Linked DNA regions of Homo sapiens: regions 1, 3 and 4 are each reported to be linked to region 2. The links are microRNA targets in miRTarBase. Many come from high-throughput screens and were not tested one by one. Region 2 holds a microRNA gene; each other region holds the end of a gene's coding sequence.

Region 1 (5,600 bases), not on the chromosome of region 2:
CTAGGGCTGCTCATTCTGGTAGGGACAGGTGAGATGTGGGTACTGAGGGGAAAGACGGGTTTCTGCAAGATTACTTCTGTATTCTCTATGAAGCACAAGGCCAGCTGACAAGGTAGGTAGGTTTCAAAGACAGAGAAGGTGGACATTATTACTACTCTAAGGGAGAGTGACACAGCAGAGAAAAGCAGTGGGAGGCTCAGGCAGTGCTGTGTGTCCGTTTGAGGTTTGCGGTGGTGAATGACATTCAGGCCTGCACATGGCTCTGCATTTGTCTATAGCTTAGACGCTGGTGTTTGATGTGCAGGCACCTCAGTATGACTCCCAGGGCTGGGACTTAGCAGGGTGTGCTGCCTAAAGGAGGTTTTGGTATTATTTCTCTAATTAAAGGTAAAAAGAGAAATGAGGGATGTTGAGGGAAGCAGACATCAGGTCAGTGGACTGGGGGTCTCTGTGAGAACAAGCTGTCAAGTCATAAGGGCTGGCCGGGCGTGGTGGTTCACGCCTGTAATCCCAGCACTTTGGGAGGCCGAGGTGGGTGGATCACTTGAAGTCTGGAGTTTGAAACCAGCCTGGCCAACATGGCGAAACCCCGTCTCTTCTTAAAAAAAATACAAAAATTAGCCAGGCATTTTGGCACATGCCTGTAATCCCAGCTATTTGGGAGGCTGAGGCAGGAGAATCACTTGAATCCAGGAGTCAGAGGTTGCAGTGAGCCAAGATCATGCCACTGCACTCCAGCCTGGGTGACAGCACGAGACCCTGTCTCAAAAAAAAAAATGATATATATATATATATATCATATATATATATATATATGATATATATATATAGATCATAAGGGCTGTTGGAACTGGTTCAGCCAGAGGTGTTGGGAGTATAGGTTGGAGGAGAGGCTGTTGGAGATGAATTTGGGGCATATGTAGGAGGTAGGATGGCCAGGTCTTAGACATGGCTTGGATATGAGGTATGTGGGAGACAAGAAGCAAAGAGGACACCATATTTCAGGCCTGTGCTTTTGAATCGGCAACAGTGCTCTTTCTAAAGGTAAGAACATGAGAAAACCTTCAACTCTGGGAGGATGGGAAAGATCATGAGTTTGGTGGTAGATATGTGGATTTGAGGTCTGTCACATGTGCAGGAGATGTCAAGTGGGCAGTTGAATATTCTTGTCTGGAGCTCACAGGGGAGTTCTAGGTAAGAGGTATGAGAGTGGTTCACTATTTGAAGCTGTGAATGTGCACGAGGTCTTCCAGGGTAAGAGAGGATAGGGTGAGAAGCAGAGGGCCTCTGACTGATAGACAGAGGCACCTTGAGAGACCCAGCTTCAAAGGATGGGCAGGACTTCCCTGGGCAGGCCACATACTTGGGGCTGTCTGTGGCTGGGATGATTCGTTTATTCGCTTACTCAAAAACTATTGAAGACCAATTCTGTGCCAGGTATATTGTGGGTGCTGGGGATGCAGCCCTGATGTTCAGGTCCACAGCCCTGGGGTCTGTGGGACAGTGGGGTCCTGTCCCTGTCCAGTGGTGGTTGCAGTACCTCCCTGGGGTCCCTGAGCTGGCCTGCTCTTCCCACAGCTGCGCATGGAGTACCTCTCCCTGATGCATGCTATAGTCCGCACCACACCCTACCTGCAGCACCGCCACCGGCTACCCGACCTGCAGGCCATACTGCGACGCATCCTGAATGAGGAGGAGACCTCACCCCAGTGCCAGATGGACCGCATGATTGTCCGAGAGATGTGCAAGGAATTCCTGGTGCTGGGGGAGGCTCCCAGCTAGCACCTTGCTGTCCTCCCTTCCCTGCAGCTCCAGTCAGTGTGCAGGGGACTCAGGGGCTTGGCCCTAAGAATGTTTTGCACTGACAGTGGGAGGGGATAAGGTGGCAGAAGGAACCTGAGCAGGACCCCCACCTGAAGTAGAACTTAAGAGAGGGGCCAAGTGTAGGATTGGGGACCATGGTCTGGGAGCTGTTCTGGGGCAGGGGGAATATGCAAGCTAAAGCCCCTCTATACCCTGGTAGGCTTCCTCTTCAGCATGCCCCCCTCTTCACCCCACACCCATGTGTACACTCAGAGTCCTGCTGCCGCTCCAGGCTGGACCAGACCCCCATCCCCACCCCTCCTGGTCTGTATCCTGGGCCTCAGCAAGCCATGCCCCTGGGGTGAGGGGAGGCATCTCCCACCAGCTCTATTCTTTGCCTTAGCTTTGCAGTGAGTGCTGCTCATGTCCTCCCCTCCACCCGCACATGGGGGTCGCTGCCCTTCACTCCTACCCCCAGAGGCCTTGGCCAAGCTGCTGCTTTGAAAGCGGGATCTTGGAGACAGGCCATCCATCCTGGAGCCTCATGGAACAGGATGATGGCACTGAGAAAGCCAATGACCGAATCTCTTTTCTCTGTAAAAATGTAGACTGAAAAGCCATGTGTATTTTCCTATGTGCTGTAGCTCTCCTTTGGAAATAAATCACAGGCATCTGGAAACAGGCTTCCCTGTATGATCTTGGGAGACAGTGGGAGAGGATGGGCAGAAGTACTGGGGCCTCAGGACCCCATCACTGCAGCTTGCACTGACTTCTCCAGCCTGAGGAGGTGATGGACCCTGACAGGCCTGGCCTTCAAGGCCCTTTGAGCCCTGTTCTAGCCTCTCTTCCCTGAGCTCCACTTTTCCTGAGCCCCAGCCATAGCCAAGTGCCCCTCAGCAGCCCATTCGCAGGTGTCTGCATCTCCAGGCTTCACTTACACACTTACATCTTTCTTTTTCTCCTTTTTTTTTTTTTTGAGACAGTCTCACTCTGTTACCCAGGCTCACTGTAGCCTTGACCTCCCAGGCTCAAGTGATCCTCCTGCCTCAGCCTCCTGAGTAGCTGAAACTACAGTAGCCACCATGCCCAGCTAATTTAATTTTTTTTTTTTTTTTTGGTAGAGACAGGGTCCTACTATGTTGCTCAAGCAGGTCTCAAACACCTCAGTTCCGGTGATCCTCCTGCCTTGGCCTCCCAAAGTACGGGGATTATAGGCGTGACCCATCGCACCGGCCCGCTTACATCTTTCACTTACATCTTTTGCTTTGCTTTGAATACCGCTACTCTCTCCCCTGTTGAAACCCTATTGTCCTTCATAGTTGTTCTCAAATGAAGCAGGCCCCTACCTACCCCCAGCCCTGGCCTCTGAATGCTTGGGCCTGTCCAGCCCTATTTTCTTCCCCCATTTGTCCTTGTTTCCAGCAAGATCACCTCATCTTGCAACCTCAGCAGAGATCTGGTAATCATGGTAGGGCAGAAGGAGGGTCTTAACAAGCATGGGGTTACGTTTCCATTAGTGTTTTAGAGGAACTAAGGGCCAAAATTTGGCAAAAACTTCACTCTTGCAGACTCTCAAGTTAGCAAAGAAGTTCTCACCATAAGTTTGGGAGCAGAGTCAGAAACCCACAGGCAGACACCAGTCAGAAGTGTTGTTTCTGTTTTCTAGATTGAGTCTCACTATCTTTTCAAGGCTGATGTCCAACTCCTGTGCTCAAGCAGTCCTCCCACTTCAGCTTCCCGAGTAGCTGGGACTACAGGCACACACCACTATATAGGCTTCACACACAAGTGGTTTTCATCAGTTCCCTTTATTTTTTACCCAAACTCTTCATTCATCAGATGTTTCCACACATCAGCAATCACTGACACTGACTTCTGGTCATGACTTTTTCTTTCTTATTGGGGTGCTGAAAACAGAGGGCAGTTATCCTCCCAAAAAGAAGGTAAAGCAGCACAGGGAGGCAAGGGCTAGGGATGGGGCCCCCCAGCAAGAGGCTCTCAGAAGTTGAAGCAGCAACATTCCATAGGAAACCCATGGGAGGAAAGTATGGGGTCCTGGTGGGGGATGCCCTGCTCACCGCTTACTGTCAGAAGGCCAGGTGCACAAACTCACTGGGACCTGAGGAGGGGTTGACAGTGTTTGGCCCCCAGTAAAGCTCTGTGGGACACAACCTGGTTACTAACTTTTTTTTTTTTTCTTTTTGAGACGGAGTTTTGCTCTTGTCACCCAGGCTGGAATGCAATGGTGTGATCTCGGCTCACTGCAACCTCTACCTCCCAGGTTCAAGCGATGATTCCTCTGCCTCAGCTTCCCGAATAGCTGGGATTACAGGTGCCCACCACCACATCCAGCTAATTTTTGTATTTTTAGTAGAGACGGGGTTTCACCATGTTGGTCAGGCTGGTCTCGAACTCCTGATCTCAGACGATCCACCTGTCTCAGGCTCCCAAAGTGCTGGGATTACAGGTGTGAGCCACCGCGCCCAGCCCCCGCTTTTTTTTTTTTTTTTTTTTTTCAGATGGAATCGTGTTCTGTCACCCAGGCTGGAGTGCAGTGGTGTGATCTTGGCTCACTGCAACCCTTAACCTCCTGGGTTCAAGCAATTCTTCCTGCCTCAGCCTCCCCAGTAGCTGGTATTACAGGCGCCTGCCACCACACCCGGCTAATTCCTGTATTTTCAGTACAGATGGGATTTCGCCATGTTGGCCCGGCTGGTCTTGAACTCCTGACCTCAGGTGACCCACTCACCTCCGCCTCCCAAAATGCTGGGATTACACGCATAAGCCACCACGCCTGGCCTGGTTACTACTTTTAACCCTGGAGACATTCTGCCTCCTTTTCATATCCAAAGTCAATGACACTGACTTCCAGTCACAACTCCTTTCTCACTGGGGTGCGGAAGGCAGGGAAGTATTCTTATGAGATAGTGTATTTCAGTAAAAAGCACAGGTCCTCAGGAAGCTGAGGCAGGGACATCGGACAGCCTTTGTGACTTGCTGTGTTTCCTGTCATGATGCACACACAAACCCTGTGGGAACGGCAGGACTGTGCTGTGCCATCTGTCCCAGTGCTGGCACCTAGGTCAAACAAGGTATGGCCCCATGGCAGAAGCCTCTGCTCACTTCTGCAGGAGTGCCCAAGGTGGGCCCTGGCACCTGTTTGTAAGAGAAGCAGAAGCCCCAGCTGATGAAGTTACATACATGCTGACTCCTGGTAGCAAGCGTGCTCTGAGGGGACTCCAGGACCTCTTCAGCAAACACCCTTGTGGTGGCCTCACAACACAAAATTACAACCAAAGGCAGATTATGATTAGTCAGAGAAGTCCTCTTGGGGAGGGAACTGTCTTTGATAGAACACGTCTATGGCTGCGTGGAAGGTTGGTAGATGTGATATGTGGGTAGGCAGTAGGAAGGGCAATGAGACAGAGCATTAAGCCACCCCAAGAAAGGGGAGTGTTTGGGTAGAGTTGAGAAGAACTCAAATTTTGGGGGACAGTGAGGGGGTTTGGGCTGACTTCCTGGGTCAGAAGTTTCTGAAGCTGCAGCTAGGAATGGGTGTGTAAGTGTGCAGGTGGCTCACACCTGTAATCCTAGCACTTTGGGAGGCCGTAGAGGGAAAATCGCTTGAGCCCAGGAGTTTGAGACCAACCTGGACAGCATAGGAAGACCCCATCCCTACAAAAAATACAAAAATTAGCTGGGCGTGGTGGCCCACACCTGTAGTCCTAGCTACTCGGGAGGCTGAGGTGGAAGAATCACTTATGCTCAGGAGCAATTGCACCACTGCACTCCAGCCT
Region 2 (5,600 bases):
GGACTTCTTTCTGGACTTACAGAAAGTTATGTGGTTAGGGTTGAAATGATAAATGGCAAACAAATGAGAAATTCAGCTGTGCCAAGTAACTAACTGAATGCACACAATTTTTAAATATTATATATCATTATCATTAAGGTCCCTATTATAAAACAATGTTATTATACAAAGCCAAAAACCGTAATTCAAACTCAAGAGAATTCTGTGAATTAAAGACATGGAAAAGAAAAAGGATAGCTGTATTATCTAACATTAGCCCCTTGAACACAATCATCAGTCAATATCCTGGTTAGACAATGTTGCCCTAATCATTATTAAATCTATTTTTACTCATAATTTAGATTCTGTCTATAAAGGGACATTTTTTAAATGATGTACACAACTTGTAAGTGAGACTGATCCTTAAAACATATGAACCATAACATGCTCCTCATCTGCTAAGATTCCTTTAATGATCTCCATCTCCCTCAGAATAATAGTCAAGGTCCTATTATGGTCTACCAGGCTGTAAATGATGAACACCACTCACCCTCCATAGCGTCATCTCTCACTTGTCTGCTCCTGTCTTCCTGCCACTGCCCTTGCCATTCCTTCAACACACCAAGCACACTCTTCATACTGACTCTTCCTGTTGAATGTACCTCTCTTCCCCCACATTTTGAAATTGTTCTCTTACTCCATTCAGTCCTCTATTCCATTCTCTCCTTATCAAAGAGCCTTTCCCTAGACAGTGTATCTGAGGAGGTATTTCAGTGTTCTCTAGTATCTCTGCTTTATTTTTCTTCTTAGTACTTATCCCCACTGACATACACATCAAAATCTTCACTTTATGTTTTCTTCCATAGGAATGAAAGCTCTGGGAGAGTAGGAATTTTCCTTGTATGAATAAATGAATTAATGAATGGATAATCATCTTTTTATTTCATCTAGCTAAACAGAAAACTTCTCCAGGGAAATGACTCTATCAAAAACATTTTTAAGTTCTTGATTTCTTTGAATATTAGTATAATCCAAAGTGAAGTGTTAGTACCAATAGCATTCTTTATCAAATGATAAGTTGGCAAAATGGCAAATATGATGGTATTTTTATGTGTGTGCACAATGTAGTATACAGAATGATTTGTGTTCCATAACCTGTGAGGTAGCATAATGTAGTAGACCTGCATCATGCCAAGAAACATAGATTTAGTTCTGTTACTAATGTTCCATGTGACAGAGGAGAGTTATTTAGACTTGTGAAATAAGTTGATTGGACCAAGTTTCTTTCTGTCTCATAAGACTACAGGGATCTATGAGATGTTTGTCCCTTCCTTCTTTATTTTGCTTCCAAACATGTGAAAGCCAAACAACAAGTGTATTCAATTTAAGGCCAATATTTATATAATTGTTGGATGACAAGAACATCCACAACGTTTAGCTTCAACTTATTTGGTTTTAATGTTTATTTCCATAATATTTGCAAACTAAAAATTTGGGAATGTTTATTATCAGAATACTCTTTATCAAAGTATCATTGAAGAGTGGTTCTTAACTCTGCAAGAATCAGTGCAGACACACTTACTTTGGCGTATCATTTTAAATACAGCTTTTTGCAGGACTCTTACCATTTAGCTAAAAGCAGAGAGTTAAGCATATGCATTGCATGAAGATATAGTCGAAATTTATCTTCCCTTTAAGCGGGTAAGGAGTGTTCTCTCAAGGTACATGCCAATAAAAATGTGTCCAATCCCTAATGTCCTAATGTTCATGCTAAAACATAACAAAATCTCTGAGGCATCCAGATAGAATAACTTTAAGCTTAGTTCCTTTAGGAGTAAGTCATTTTAATTGAAGAGATCTGATCACACTGAAGGACAAAGACATTTATCTCTCTGTATAATGAAAACTGAAAAAGCCACTGGTAGTTGTTCTACAGAAGACCTGGATGTGTAGGAGCTAAGACACACTCCAGGGGAGCTGTGGAAGCAGTAACACGGGAGGGGTTACAAGGAAGGAAGGATTACAAGGAAGGAGGGGACCACCAAGTCTTCACTCATAACTAAGCAATAATAGTGAGAGTTGTGAGCATTGTTGAAACAACCAAGACACTTCCCTGGACCCAGGAATGAACACACAGCCATTAGCCACAATCATGGCAATGGGGACTTCAAAGGCCAGTGTGGCTCTAGCTTACTGAGAAACGTGACTAAAACTAACCTTGCACAATGACTGCTGAATGCTCCCAGGAGACTCTTTGACTATTGAGATCTTTTATTTACATAGAAATTGATTTAATTAACTCTCATTTCATACATGGTAGTCAATATTCTCTGGTTACTATTAGCGTTGGCAAACAGATTGACTCTGAAGAGTGTCAAGAGCTTTTAGAGGTGGACACCAGCACAGAGTACATGGCAGAGAAGAGAAGAAACTCGATTTTCATGACCTGGGTGCTCCTCCCTACAATTACATATTTATTAACATTCTACATGTTTTAAGAATTTGATTCTTAAAAGTCATTAAGGGAAAGTCATTAAGAAGTTTCACTTCAAAACAGTTTATACAAGGAAAAAAATATAGAAAAAATATAAATTCAGGCATCTATGTAACTTATGTAAGATTTTGTTTCTATTCTTGATAGTTTTTAAATTATTTTCATCTTCAAACTATAAAAGGAAGATGCCCAAATGCTCAACTTCTTACATTATTAGAGTATTATTCATAATTTGCAAACCAAGAACAACTCAAGCACATGGAAGAAATAAGCAAGTGGCAAGAGATTTGAGAATTGTAAAACTGATGGCAAAAGAATGACCAGCAAATGGTAATGTAAATGTCCTGACCTGCTGAGTCTCCCAGTCCAATCTCTCCCACTCCCGGTGTCCTGATGTCCTTGATATTATCTATTTCTTGAAATGCTAAAAAAAAAAAAAAAAAAAAGAAAAAGAAAAAGGAAGAAAAATTGAAACAAAGAAAGAAAATATTAAGTGAGAAATCAGAGTAATTCCAAATAAATAAAAAAATTGAAAATGATAAAGATAGTTAAATGAGATTTCTATTGCAAAATGTTGGAAAAAATATTAAGTACTTTCATTATAATAATTTTTTTTTTTTCTAGACCAGATTCATAGCCATAAAACAACATCAGACTCATACGACTGTGCTAGTTAGTGGCTAATGAATGAAAAATCAATGAAAAACTAAACAATTTTTATTAATGACATTTCAAGATACAGCGACAACTGAAATGTAAAAATATGAACTAATTATTTTGGAGCCATATTAATTAAATCACTTAAAAGTCATCATATGATTAATTCAGCCATGTGAGCATGCATGTGTGATGCACAAACTCACTCACACAAGTGTGTGTGTATAGCCTGAAGTGATCCTAAGCCTAGTTTTACTGAGACAATTACAACCATTTTTTATAGTCCATGATAGTTTAAAATATATATATATATAATGTAATATTACTTAGAGCTACAATACTTTACGCAAAACATTCTAACGGGCACTGAAATGTATGGAATACATATGTGTATAAATTTATAGAATAAAACTTATGGAATACATGTATATGTATAAATTTATGAAATAAAATTTATAGAATACATAAGCACTTAGCAAAGCACGGTGCTACATTGTACTAGGACACTAAGTTATAGAAGAATAAATACTTCATAAACCCATTGAATAATTTCCAGGCAAAAATACCAACAATAGAAAGAACAAAATAAAAACAGAAACACTCTATAAGTAGTCACTTTATCAGAGACAGACTGCAGGGTCATAAAAGCAGAATTTAATTATTGATTTCTGGGAATGTTTTTGCAAATTTATCTAACCTCTTGGAGGCTTATTTTCCCAATCTACAAAATGGCTTCATAAGCTTGTCATGAACCCCAAATCTAAGTTTTCAATACATACAGCTATTTTATTATGATTTTATTATTTATTTGTGATTGTGGAATATTTTTTATATGGGGAAGTTCATCAGCTATTGTCTGCTTTTTAAGGTTTGGCCACCAAAATGACTACATTATATGACTTCAAGATGTTTATGCATTTATTAATTATATGTGGGATCTTGCAACAAGCTTATTAAAATTGTATAAATAAAAAGCTTATCAATTTTTTGTCTTAGGTTGGTCCTATATTATCAACCAGATTATGCAGGTCAGTATTTTAATGACAATACTTCAAACTGTACTTACAGGAAAACAGAATTCCACTTCTGAAATACTGGTCTAACATACCAGAGCTACAGACTTAGAGGTAATCTAAGACCAGGTGACTTGTGCAACTTTTATTTATTAATTTATATTCTTTTTCATTTTAAAAAGCCTAAATAATTTTGGAATATTTAGATCATTTTAGAGTACATAAAATGGCAAGAAGAATTACACTCTATAACCAAGTAGGATTTATCCCAGGAATGCAAAGTTGATTTACCATATAAATATCAAATAACATACCATACCATATTAATAAAGGGAAAAATCATACAATATCTCTATAGATGCTGAAAAGCATCTGACAAAATCCAACACCCTGCTTTAAAACCATCAAAACATTAAACAAACTAGCAATAGAAGGAAACTTCCTCAACCTAGTAAAGACCATCTATGAAAAATCTACAACTATAATACTTAATGGCAAAACATTAACTGTTTTCTCCTTAAACTAAGGAACAAGAATGTTTGCTCATACCACTTTTATTCAACATTTTATTAGAGATTTCATACAGGTTCACTAAATAAGAAACAGAAAGAAAAGGCATCCAGGCTGGAAAGAAAGAAGTATGATTATCGCTATTTGTAGATAACGTTATCATTTTTACTTAGAAAATCTTAAGGAAGTAATTAAAAAACTATAAGAGCTAAAGAACAAGTTCAGTAAGGTTGCAGGATAGTTGATCAATATATAAAAATCAATTGTATTTCTACAAACTAGTAATGAACATTCTGAAAATGATATCAAGGAAACAATTCCATTTATAATAGCATGGAAAGAATAAAATACTTCGGAATAAATTTAACATTAGAAGTCTAAGGCTTGTGAATCACAAACTATAAACATCTTTGAAAAAAATTAAAGAATATCTAAAAAATGAAAAGACAACCCACATTCATGGATGAGAAAACTTAATATTCTTAAAATGATAATACTTGCCAATTAATCTACAGATTGAACACAATTCTTATCAAAATCCCAGTTGGCTTTTTTACAGAAACTGTCAAGCTGATCCTAAAATTCATATGGACATACAAAAAGTCCAAAATAGCTACATCGATCCTGAAAAAAAAAAAAGAAAGAAAAAGGGGATGTATCCTTCCCAACTTCAAAATTTATGACAAAGCTACAATAATTAAGACATTAGTGGTACTGGTATAAGGATGCACATATAGATCTAATGGCACAGAATTGAGAGTACAGAAATAAACCGATACATTTGTAGCTAGTTGATTTTTGATAAGGTTGCCCAGACAAGTCAATGGAAGGAAGAATAGTTGTCATATAAGTATTAATATATTTTTAAAAATCTGGTCTTTGTCCCTGGTTCCTGGCACAGAGTTTCAGAAATTCTTGAAATTCCCTGAGTGATAGATGTGCCTTTG
Region 3 (5,600 bases), not on the chromosome of region 2:
AAGCAATTCTCCTGCCTCAGCCTCCTGAGCAGCTGGGATTACAGGTGTGCACCACCAAGCCCAGTTAATTTTTGGTATTTTATTAGAGACAGGGTTTCACCAGGTTGTCCCCAGGCTAGTCTCAAACTGCTGTGCTCAGGCAATCCAGCTGCCTTGGCCTCCCAAAGTGCTGGGATTACAGGCATGAGTCACCACATCCAGTCGAAACTAGCATGGCTTTGAGCTGTCTTTTATTCATCACTCAGTGGATGTTGTCAGGTGCCTGGTAGTGCCAGGCATTATGCTAGGCACTGAGCCTGAGCACAAGCATGATCCCTACCATCATGGGAGAATTAGAAATCAATCAAAGAAGCATACAAATAAATGTAAGGTTTCAACCCTGGGAACTTCTCTAAAGGAGCGACAGAGAACTTAATATAAGCAAGGTGGCCTGGGAAACTTCCCCCAAGGAGGTGATGACTGGGCTGAGGTCTGAAGGAAGACCAGGAGGTGACCATGCCAAAGGGTAGGGGTGGGGGAGTAATGCAGGAGCTGTGGAAGAAGGGAGTGTGGAGCTCTTGAGGTACTGAAAGCCAGTCTGGCTGTAGCAGAGAGCAACAGGAAGCATGTGGCCCGACCTCCCCGAGAGGCCGTGGGAGATAGACTGTGCAGGCCCTGGTAGGCAATGGCAGGGACTTATAGTCTTCATCCTAAGGATAATGGGAAATTACTGTCGTGTTTTGAGCAAGGAAATGAAAGCAGATTGCTATTTCTAAAAGACCATGCTGGCCAGGTGTGGTGGCGCACACTTATAATCCCAGCACTTTGGGAGGCCAAAATGGGAGGACTGCTTGAGGCCAGGAGTTCAAGACCAGCCTGGGCAACATAGCAAGATCCTATCTGTACAAAAATAAATAAACAAAAATATTGGCCAGGCCTAGTGGCACACACCTGGTAAGCACTGGCTACTCAGGAGGCTGAGGCAGGAGGATCACTTAAGCCAGGAGGTCAAGGCTGTAGTGAGCTAAGATCATGCCACAGCACTCCAGCCTGGGCAACAGAGTGAGACCCTGTCTCAAAAAAAAAAAAAATCACCCTGACTGCAGGGAGAAAAACAGAGGGGAGGGTGCCAAGCAGATGGAGGAAGCCAGCTTAGAGCTGCGGCAGGAGGCCAGCTGCCTGGATGATGGCCCTGGATACTGCAGGTGTGGTAAAGTGCACACATCCAGAGAGGTTTAGGATACTTAGAGCTGATGTTCATTCAATTTGTAGGAAATAGTCTTAGCTATAGCTGGGTAGGACCCCATTTCGGAATGTTAAGCTAAATATGAAAACTTATGACTGACTAAATTTTCCATTTTTTTCTCCTATGTAGGCAACTGATTGAAGGAACAGAAGTGCTTAAACAACTAGAATTAGTTCCAACACAGAATGAAAGACCAATACATATGTGTAGAATTACTGACAGTGGAGATCCTTATGCTTGATTTTCATATCAATATTTTCTGTGATAATTTATTACTTTGTATCTGATCAGCTGTTTGTGGATTTAATTAAAAAGTACTTGATAAATTGTAATTTGAAAGCCGTGGCAGACACTGTAGGTTGCCTCATCTACACCCAATCCCTCCCCATCTTCCTTTCCTGTCTCTGTCATAGAGACTGTGAAAGGGTGGTACTCAATTTCCTAGACTCCTTTGCAGCCACGGGTGGCCATGAGAGATGGTTCTGGCCAGTGGGACAGGAATAGAACGCCAGTGGTCCTGCCCCTTCCCCTTCATCCAGTCTGGAATGTGGAGAGGCTGGAGCTACAGCTGTCATCTTGTGGCCATAAAGAAAAGGCTGAGGCCAGGTGTGGTAGCTCACGCCTGTAATCCCAGCACTTGGGAGGCCGAGGCAGGTGGATCACAAGATCAAGAGATTGAGACCATCCTGGCCAACATGGTGAAACCCTGTCTCTACTAAAACTACAGAAATTAGCTGGGCATGGTGGCATGCACTTGTAGTCCCAGCTACTTGGGAAGCTGAGGCAGAAGAATCTCTTGAACCCGGGAGGCGGAGGTTGCAGTGAGCCGAGATGCCGCCACTGCACTCCAGCCTGGCGACAGAGAGAGACTGTCTCAAAAAAAAAGAAAGGCCAAGTACTGCAGAGATGTCAGCCCCAGTCTCTTGAGCTGCGGGACCAATACCAGCAACCACCTACTCTGGACTTCTTATTATAGGAGACTAACAGAGCCCTGTGTTGTGTTGTTTATGTTACTGTTGGTTGAGAATTTTGTTACTTGTGGACAAAAAATTCTTAATTTAGCAACACACCTGATAGCCTAAGACATTTGTAATAGAATTATGTTCTTGTTTGTAACTACATGTACTCCTAGGAGAAACTTGGTAAGTAACCAAATAGGAATGATGCAGAAGAAAAAGCAATTCATTGTAATATTTCATTGTTTATACCAGCATTCAGAAAGAGTATCTACACTTTGGATGTTTTCATATATGACATGAACATCATCCTTATCTCTCTGAGCCATACCAACCCTATGAAAACCAAGGGCTTGTTTTACAGTGTCCGTGGTGGCTGACTCATGTGATGTTATTGGAGATTCAGCTTTATCACTACTCTGTAATCTAAAGTTCTCAAGCTCATATCACCTGGGGAGCTTTTAAAATGTAACCTAACAGACCTTGTCCTTGACCTACTGAGGCAGAGTTCCCAGGCGTGGGGCAGAGATTCTGTGTTCATTTGGTTCTTTCCCCAGGGTTCCCAGGCGTGGGGCACAGATTCTGTGTTCATTTAGCTCTTTCCCCAGGGTTCCCATTTAGACAGCTGGGCACTAGTCATCTGGGAATCACTGCAAGACATAAGGAACTGGTTCCAGTCCCCATGGTGTAATGTAGTCAGCAGAGTGCTTGACTCTGCTATTGGTGACCTTGCTCAGCTCCTGTTACCACCACTACCCTGTGCCCCTGCTCTGCCCAGACTAAGAGTGCTTTTCTTTTTTTTTTTTTTTTTTTTTTTTTTTTTGAGACGGAATCTCACTCTGTCGCCCAGGCTGGAGTGCAGTGGCACAATCTCGGCTCACTGCAAGCTCTGCCTCCCTGATTCATGCCATTCTCCTGCCTCAGCCTCCCGAGTAGCTGGGACTACAGGCGCCTGCCACCACGCCTGGCTAATTTTTTGTATTTTTAGTAGAGATGGGATTTCACCATGTTAGCCAGGATGGTCCCGATCTTGTGACCTCGTGATCCGCCCGCCTCGGCCTCCCAAAGTGCTGAGATTACAAAGGCGTGAGCCACCGCACCCGGCTGAGAGTGCTTTTCTTACCCTAAGCAGAATGAGGTTTGTCTTCCAAGAACAATCTCTATTTACATCAGTCTTAAAGAGGCAGGCTTCTAATGGATATGAGGCTTGCCAAAAGTAGGCGTAGGCTTTTTTAACTTTTTATTTTGAAATATAGATTCACAGGAAGTTGCAAAAATAGTACAGAGCAGTCCTGTGTACCTTTCACCCATTTTCCCCAGTGGCTACGCTTACAAAACGGTAGTACAATATCAAACCAGGCAGCTGACATTGGTACAATGTGTGTGATGCCATTTTATCATGAGTATATTCATGTAACCAACACTATAGAGAAAATATAGAACCTTTCCAGCACCTCAAAGACCCCCTTCCAGTACCCCTTTACAGTCAACCCACTCCCCTGCCCTCTGCCATCCCTAACTCCTGACAACTGGCATTTGCTTTTCCTTTTAATGACAGCTTTATTGCTATATGACATATGCTTTATGCTAAGACCTGAGGTGGATGGGAGGAAGCAGACCGCCTATGTTACATTCTCAACTGACCCAGAGCAACATAGTGTTAAGAATGTGTGTTCTAGGGCCAGAATCCTGGCTCTGCCATTCCCTAGCTGCACAAACTCAGGCAAGAACTTTTCTGTGCCTCAATTCCTTCATCTGAGAAACAGTGGTACCTACCACATAAGATTGCTGTGAGGGTTCCATGAATCAATAATTTCTATAAAGAACCTATAAGAGACCTGGTCTGCTGTAAGCACTCGATAAATTTAATAATAAATTACTAATGTGTAACCTTCAGGGTGTAGCCTCAGAGCTTGGACTTTTTGAAAGCTCTCCAATGACTTTGATAGCCAGATTTGGGAATCCCTGAGGAGAGTCTCCCTCTTCCTGTACTCACAGACTTCTGGGCAGTCTGAGAACTCGGGTGATTTGTCTAGAGCTTCCAGACCCTCTCGCTGGGCCTTTGCCCAGGTTCCTCAGGTCACACTGGGGACATCTCAGACAAAAGGGAGCTGGGCTTGCCACCAGGATTCAAAACAATTGGTGAATGAAAACTGATTCTTTGCAAGGAGCCCGGTTAAAACACATGACAAGCGTTACTCATGTAATAACAAACAGCAGGGCAGTTCTTACTGGTGATGAACCTATATATTAATGGCATTAGGCATTTTATCTGATGTTGTGAAAGAACTGGGATATTTGTGTGGGTGTAAGAAACTGATTCCAGCTCCCTTTGTCAGCAGCAATAGAAAGGTAGAACTCTGCCAGTCTTCTCAAGGATGGCGAGTTCATGGTCCCTTTGTTCACTCTAACTTTCCACTTCTGGGCTGTGGAAACCTCAACCACAGATCCATGCAGTGGTTCTTATCACCAGCACTTAAAAGTATACACACTGATACTTCTGTGCTAGAATGATTTGTATGTTTAACCTCATAGTTGAAGAAACTGATTGTTAGAAGGACTCAAAAGTTTACTCCAATGAACTCCACATGTAAGACTTTGATTTAACCAAACTGAAATACACTAATTAAACAGAAGGGATTCTAGATTTTTCCACATCTACAAATAGGACAATAAAGGCCTTCTGATGATTTACACAAAATGCTAAGTTATATGTCTAAACTTGCCCTAATTGCTGATATGGCAAAGTCAAGTACATACGCTTTATCTTATACTAGGCCGTGTGAATAAGGGAGGGCATATCTAAACATTTTTCTTATATGGGGAGATTTGAGGTAAATATTTAAAATTCTATCCAAGGAATTTGTTTGCCCCTACTGCAAACAGTGCCAGTTATTTGTTAAGGAATGGATAATCTGGCAACCTCAGGATTCCAGACCCTGAGTTTTTATACATATTTTAAATGAAGCATTATTTGTTTGAGAACCACCTGTCCAGCAATGTGATGGTCAAATCACTTAACCTTTCACTGTCCCCATTTGTAAAAATAACAGAAGTTGAGTTGCTAGCTTTCTTCTGGCTCTAAAACTTCAGTGATTATTCTGAGGAAACGCATAAAATCAACAATTTTAAGTGAAATGGGGGTACATCTGTCTCAGTGTTCTGAGGATTGACACAGCAGGTGAATCTATTCACAGCAGGTGAATTATGAGAAGCACAGCACAGTGCTTCTAATAATGCTTGGCACACAGCAGATATTCCTTAAGAATTAGTTTCCCTTCAGAAATGTCTCCCCACGGAAACCAGTCAAGCTACCACTGACAGAATATCATCATCCTAATTTCAAGAAATATCAAGCTCTTTTTATACTGAGTATTAGCAGTTCTCACATCAGATTAACTTTCAATCAACTGAACTAG
Region 4 (5,447 bases), not on the chromosome of region 2:
TTCAGATTGCTACCGGTATTAATATGTACATTTTTGTTTTTATTCTGTTTAACCATGGCCTTCTGACCCTTACAAAGGAATGTAATATGCTATCTAGAAAATCAGGCTTCTAATTAGCCTGGATTTATCCAGTGCTATAAATACCCACTGGCCTACACTGTCAGGTTTCTTCTCCTGAGGGGGAAAAATAAAAGAATAATGTAGTAATGTAGTAAACAAATACATCCTAAGGTGGGCCATGTGACATTTTGACAAGTGTGCAGTTATTAAGGATTATTAATTATCAAGTTTTAATAAACTTTTTCCCTTTTTCTTTTAGCTCCTGGTATTATTGCCTGCACATTCTTGGTATCTTAGTATTATTGTTGTTGCCAGTGAAAAAAACTCAAAGAAGAAAGAATACACATGAAAACATTCAGCTCTCACAATCCAAAAAGTTTGATGAAGGAGAAAATTCTTTGGGACAGAACAGTTTTTCTACAACAAACAATGTTTGCAATCAGAATCAAGAAATAGCCTCGAGACATTCATCACTAAAGCAGTGATCGGGAAGGCTCTGAGGGCTGTTTTTTTTTTTTGATGTTAACAGAAACCAATCTTAGCACCTTTTCAAGGGGTTTGAGTTTGTTGGAAAAGCAGTTAACTGGGGGGAAATGGACAGTTATAGATAAGGAATTTCCTGTACACCAGATTGGAAATGGAGTGAAACAAGCCCTCCCATGCCATGTCTCCGTGGGCCACGCCTTATGTAAGAATATTTCCATATTTCAGTGGGCACTCCCAACCTCAGCACTTGTCCGTAGGGTCACACGCGTGCCCTGTTGCTGAATGTATGTTGCGTATCCCAAGGCACTGAAGAGGTGGAAAAATAATCGTGTCAATCTGGATGATAGAGAGAAATTAACTTTTCCAAATGAATGTCTTGCCTTAAACCCTCTATTTCCTAAAATATTGTTCCTAAATGGTATTTTCAAGTGTAATATTGTGAGAACGCTACTGCAGTAGTTGATGTTGTGTGCTGTAAAGGATTTTAGGAGGAATTTGAAACAGGATATTTAAGAGTGTGGATATTTTTAAAATGCAATAAACATCTCAGTATTTGAAGGGTTTTCTTAAAGTATGTCAAATGACTACAATCCATAGTGAAACTGTAAACAGTAATGGACGCCAAATTATAGGTAGCTGATTTTGCTGGAGAGTTTAATTACCTTGTGCAGTCAAAGAGCGCTTCCAGAAGGAATCTCTTAAAACATAATGAGAGGTTTGGTAATGTGATATTTTAAGCTTATTCTTTTTCTTAAAAGAGAGAGGTGACGAAGGAAGGCAGGAATGAAGAAGCACTGCGTGGCCTCCGGTGGAATGCACGGGGCACAGCCGCGACTCTGCAGGCAGCTTCCCCCCCATGCCAGGGCTCTGCGCCGTCATGTGAGACTTAAAAAAAAAGTTGAATGACTTCGTGATACTTTGGACTTCTAAATTAAATTTATCAGGCATAAATTATGTAGAATTAGAGGCTTTGAAAATAATACTGGTAGGTTGCTCAAAGGTTTTGAAAGAGAAATCGCTAGGTAGGTTACTATCTGGCTAATCCATTTCTTATCCTTGACAATTTAATTCATATTTGGGAAACTTTTAGGGAAATGAAAAATAAAAGTCACTGAGTCTGGGTGACATTTTTTAAGAATAATATAAATTCAGTTTCAAACTCTTCTCACATTAAAATTTTGCTGTGAACTCTTACTAAAATGAGTTTTAGGTTCTGTAAGTGGAAAAATGTGCTTTTATTTTATGGGCCATTTTTACCACAACTAATCTTGCCTTGGATTACTAAGCATCTCCTGCGATCCCACAGAGGACTGTGGTGGCCACAGGAGCTGAAAGCAGAAGAGTGGGATTTGATGCCAGGCAGTGGAGTGGCCTCAGCCCCAGATTGTACCTCCTGCCCTGTAGGAGGGGAGGGGGCAAAGCCTTCTGACTTCACCTTTGTTTGACCTATGTATGGAACTTACTTTTACTTTTTGCCTTAAATTTTTAATGAAATGCAAATTTTCTGTGATGGGGTTCTCTCTCTCTTTTTTTCGGGGGGTGGAGTCACTAATAAATTTGCAAATGAAGTTAAAGACAAGGCAACCATCTGGCTTATGCTATATAATACTTCATTTAAAGAAGAAAGGAAAAGCAAATGCACTTGCAGCTTTTGAGGTCTCAGCAAAAATGGGCATGTGTCTTTTTTGAAGTTTAGAAATATCCTAATCTATTTTTATTTATCTAAAAGTAAGTGTTTTCCGGCTGATAAGGCTAACCCTACCCAGGAAAGGATTGATAACTAAATAAATTTCCTCTGTTTTCCCATGCATTGAAATTATGTTGGCTGAGCATGGTGGCTCACACCTGTAATCCTAGCACTTTGGGAGGCCGAGGTGGGCGGATCACTTGAGGTCAGGAGTTGGAGACCAGCCTGGCCAACGTGGTGAATCCCCGTCTCTACTGAAAACACAAAAATTAGACGGGCATGGTGGCGCACACCTGTAATCCCAGCTACTTGGGAGGCTGAGGCAGGAGAATTGCTTGAACCTGGGAGGTGGAGGTTGCAGTGAGCTAAAATTGTGCCACTGCACTCCAGCCTGGGTGACAGAGGAAGACTCCGTCTCACAAAAAAAAAAAAAGAAAAAAGAAATTATGCCAGCTGTTTAATGTGAGAGAATAGAAAGAATGTTCATGGAATGTACCTGCCCTGTAAAATGTTTGATCATTTTCATTAATGTTGCAGAGAATCCGACTGCTATTAAGAGAAAGTGAACAAATTAAGAATTTAAAAGACAGGTTCAGGCATGTCATAAGTGAAAACAAGAAGGCTTAATACAAACTTGTTGGGTTTTGTTCGTGTGTGTGTGTGTGTGTGTGTGTGTGTTTTTTTTTGGTTCAGCCTATCTAGCCACCTACAAATAATCACATTTCTGTTACCTGAATTTATTTCTCAGCCTGTAAACCTTAGTCACTGTTACCTGTTTCTTGCTCAGTGAATATGATCTTGGCACTGTCATCTAGAAAGCAAGATATTTGATTGGTTTTCTGGTTCCTTCGAAGATAATAATTCCATATCCAGTTTGACTGATTTTCATACCCCTGAATCAACTAGTTATTTTCATGAAATGGTTTTTGGATATCTCTCCTCTAGTTTGGAGAAGTAATAATCACAAAGATTAATATTTTGCTTCTAGTACTTACAGTAGAAGAATTTTAAACTGGTACGTCTACTCCTGTTAAATAGAAAGGGGATTCGTTGTATTATGTGCTTGCTTTTTTTTAATCAATAGAATAAGATTCAATGCATATTTATGTTTTATATTTTCCACTATTCAGGTATCATGAAATCACTCTAGAGATGATCAATCAACATCATATTTATACTTTTGGTTAATTATATACTACTCAGGGAAAAAATGAACAAAAATAACTACTCATCCTTCAATTTCATTTTCTTGAAACAGTAAGAGTATAATTTGGTATGCCTCAGCTGTCACCATTTTATAAGTGGCTCATTCTGTTCTTAAAGTAAGTATTTTTATTGGAACTCAGGGTAATTGGGGGAATTTATTTAGCTTCTAAAATATCCGGCAGGATAGAGAAGATTTATTTGGCTTCAAAAATGTCTGGTGACCACTTCTCTTATTAGCCACTACTGCCCATTTGCTTCAAAAATATATTTATTGGTCTCCACCATGTGTGACACACACAGGATTTCCAAACATACCACTTTTGAGAAAAATGTGCAGTAAAAAGGAGGTTTCTAGAAAGTGACAGTAACTCACATTTAAGCACTAGCTGACCTAGGAGGAGACCTGGATCTTCATTCTGGTTCTGCCTTTCATGAGACTTAAGACTTGGAGGAGCCACCTGTCCTGTAGACCCCAAGTTCCTCAGCCATAAGCAAACGGGTTAATCCTAAGAGTTCAGGACCAGTTGGGTGTCGTGAACGGAGCCATTAGCAAGGTCTGTAGGATTCAAGGACTTGGGCACATTCACAGTCCACACTATTGTCATGGTCATTGACTTACTACTTGAGCTCAAAGCCCTGACATTTCAAAAGGTTGTCATGATAACAGTGAAACCTCTGAATCCCTTAAATCAGAAGGCATGGCAACATACTTTTTCTACTGGCAATAGCTCTTACAATGAGTGTTTCATAATGAAATAGTCTCTGCTGAAGAAAACATGTTTTCCTTTTGCTCTCTCTGCTTTGTTGGTTTCTGTGCTGTGTGGAATTGGAGAAGATATATGCTCTGAAATATTTTATACAGATTACTGACTACTGGACAGGGTTTACCACTATATAACATCTCAAAGTTATTCAAGGATATTTAAAGCATATTTAGTTTAGTTACACCTTATTTTAAACCGCAGAAAACAATAGCTTTAAAATTTTTGCCATTAAAATAATTATAAATTTATACTTTTACTCAAGGACTAGATCACAGTTTTAGGACAAAAATCTCTCCTATTTAAAGTTCATACCTTGTAAGTATTTAGTTTGTATATTCATGAACAAATCTGGACATTTATACTTTTTTTGTTTCCTTATCAACTGTTCACAATTATTAGTTAATTGGTCTTAACAGTTCTACATTATAATTGAAAGAAAAATTACTTGAGAAAATAATTGTTTCAGAATAGTGCCTACTATATCTGTGTCAGCTAAAAATTTGTCCAGAGTTTTAGATATAAGCTAGTATTTTGTGGAGTTTTATCCAGGCGTTAATAGTTCTTCCTGGCTGAAATTTAATATAGGTGCAGAATCCTAAATAACACTGTGAGATGTAATCTTAACTGCCCTCAATACCTTATAAAACTGCTGCATTTAACCCAGTGTGCATTTAATGAGTGGCTGGTCGTTGATACACTCATCTTAGATGCTGAAATTTCTGTTTTCTCCAGCCCTTGTAAAAGTGGGTTTCTTGATGAACGCGTGCTCCCAATGCTGAAGCAAAAGATTTGCATTTAAGGAGAGAAATACACCCTGAAATTTGAGTTTGAAAGATTAGAACATAGAGGGTCTCTACAGTGTTTTTCTGCAACACCAAGTAGTCAAATCTATTTATAGAAACTCTGATTACAACAGAAATTTTAAAATGAAATTTTCCACATCGGTATTTTGTAGGAAAGCTCTTATAATCAATGCTTAAGCTGCTTTTTGAGGCTTTTCTTGTACAGAGGTTGCAGCCAATTACATTTTAATTGGTAGGCTGCTGAATAATGTTTTTGTATGTTTTAAAATAATATTTATTTTAATAGGTTTTTTAACATTATGCAAATCCCAATAAAGAACTGACACGTTCCATAGGCCATTGACTGGGAAATTTTGTGAAACACAGCCTAAATACACAGTTTTTACACCAACTAATTTGTCTTGCCTTTAAAACTGATTATAACTCTTCTTTAAGTACAAC

Evidence for each region. The annotated mature microRNA hsa-miR-920 reads GGGGAGCUGUGGAAGCAGUA and lies in region 2 at 1,951-1,970, shown strand. An mRNA with a match to its seed (bases 2 to 7 or 8) in the 3' UTR can be bound and repressed. Matches are read on the target gene's strand: a 7mer-m8 pairs with bases 2 to 8, a 7mer-A1 pairs with bases 2 to 7 and ends in A, and an 8mer does both.
Region 1: miRTarBase lists NCKIPSD as a target of hsa-miR-920. The part of its 3' UTR that is shown has no 7-base or 8-base seed match.
Region 3: miRTarBase lists PPIL6 as a target of hsa-miR-920. The part of its 3' UTR that is shown has no 7-base or 8-base seed match.
Region 4: miRTarBase lists MBOAT2 as a target of hsa-miR-920. Seed matches in the 3' UTR shown: 7mer-A1 at 4,969-4,975.

Annotation. Positions count from the first base shown.
Region 1 is chr3:48,670,726-48,676,325 of GRCh38, reverse strand. It overlaps NCKIPSD (NCK interacting protein with SH3 domain), which reads left to right. Exons shown (of 13, transcript NM_016453.4): 13 at 1,579-2,482. The coding sequence ends at 1,782. Among named protein-coding and RNA genes, the nearest start is that of LINC02585, 9.8 kb to the right of the region's middle.
Region 2 is chr12:24,210,521-24,216,120 of GRCh38, forward strand. MIR920 (microRNA 920) reads left to right here and starts at 1,901; the gene lies at 1,901-1,975. It also overlaps a transcript of SOX5 not described here.
Region 3 is chr6:109,388,692-109,394,291 of GRCh38, reverse strand. It overlaps PPIL6 (peptidylprolyl isomerase like 6), which reads left to right. Exons shown (of 8, transcript NM_173672.5): 8 at 1,355-4,077. The coding sequence ends at 1,466. Among named protein-coding and RNA genes, the nearest start is that of CD164, 9.0 kb to the right of the region's middle.
Region 4 is chr2:8,853,777-8,859,223 of GRCh38, reverse strand. MBOAT2 (membrane bound glycerophospholipid O-acyltransferase 2) reads left to right here. Exons shown (of 13, transcript NM_138799.4): 13 at 320-5,447. The coding sequence ends at 545. Among named protein-coding and RNA genes, the nearest start is that of KIDINS220, 19 kb to the right of the region's middle. RefSeq lists a silencer at 3,871-4,165 and an enhancer at 3,755-4,306.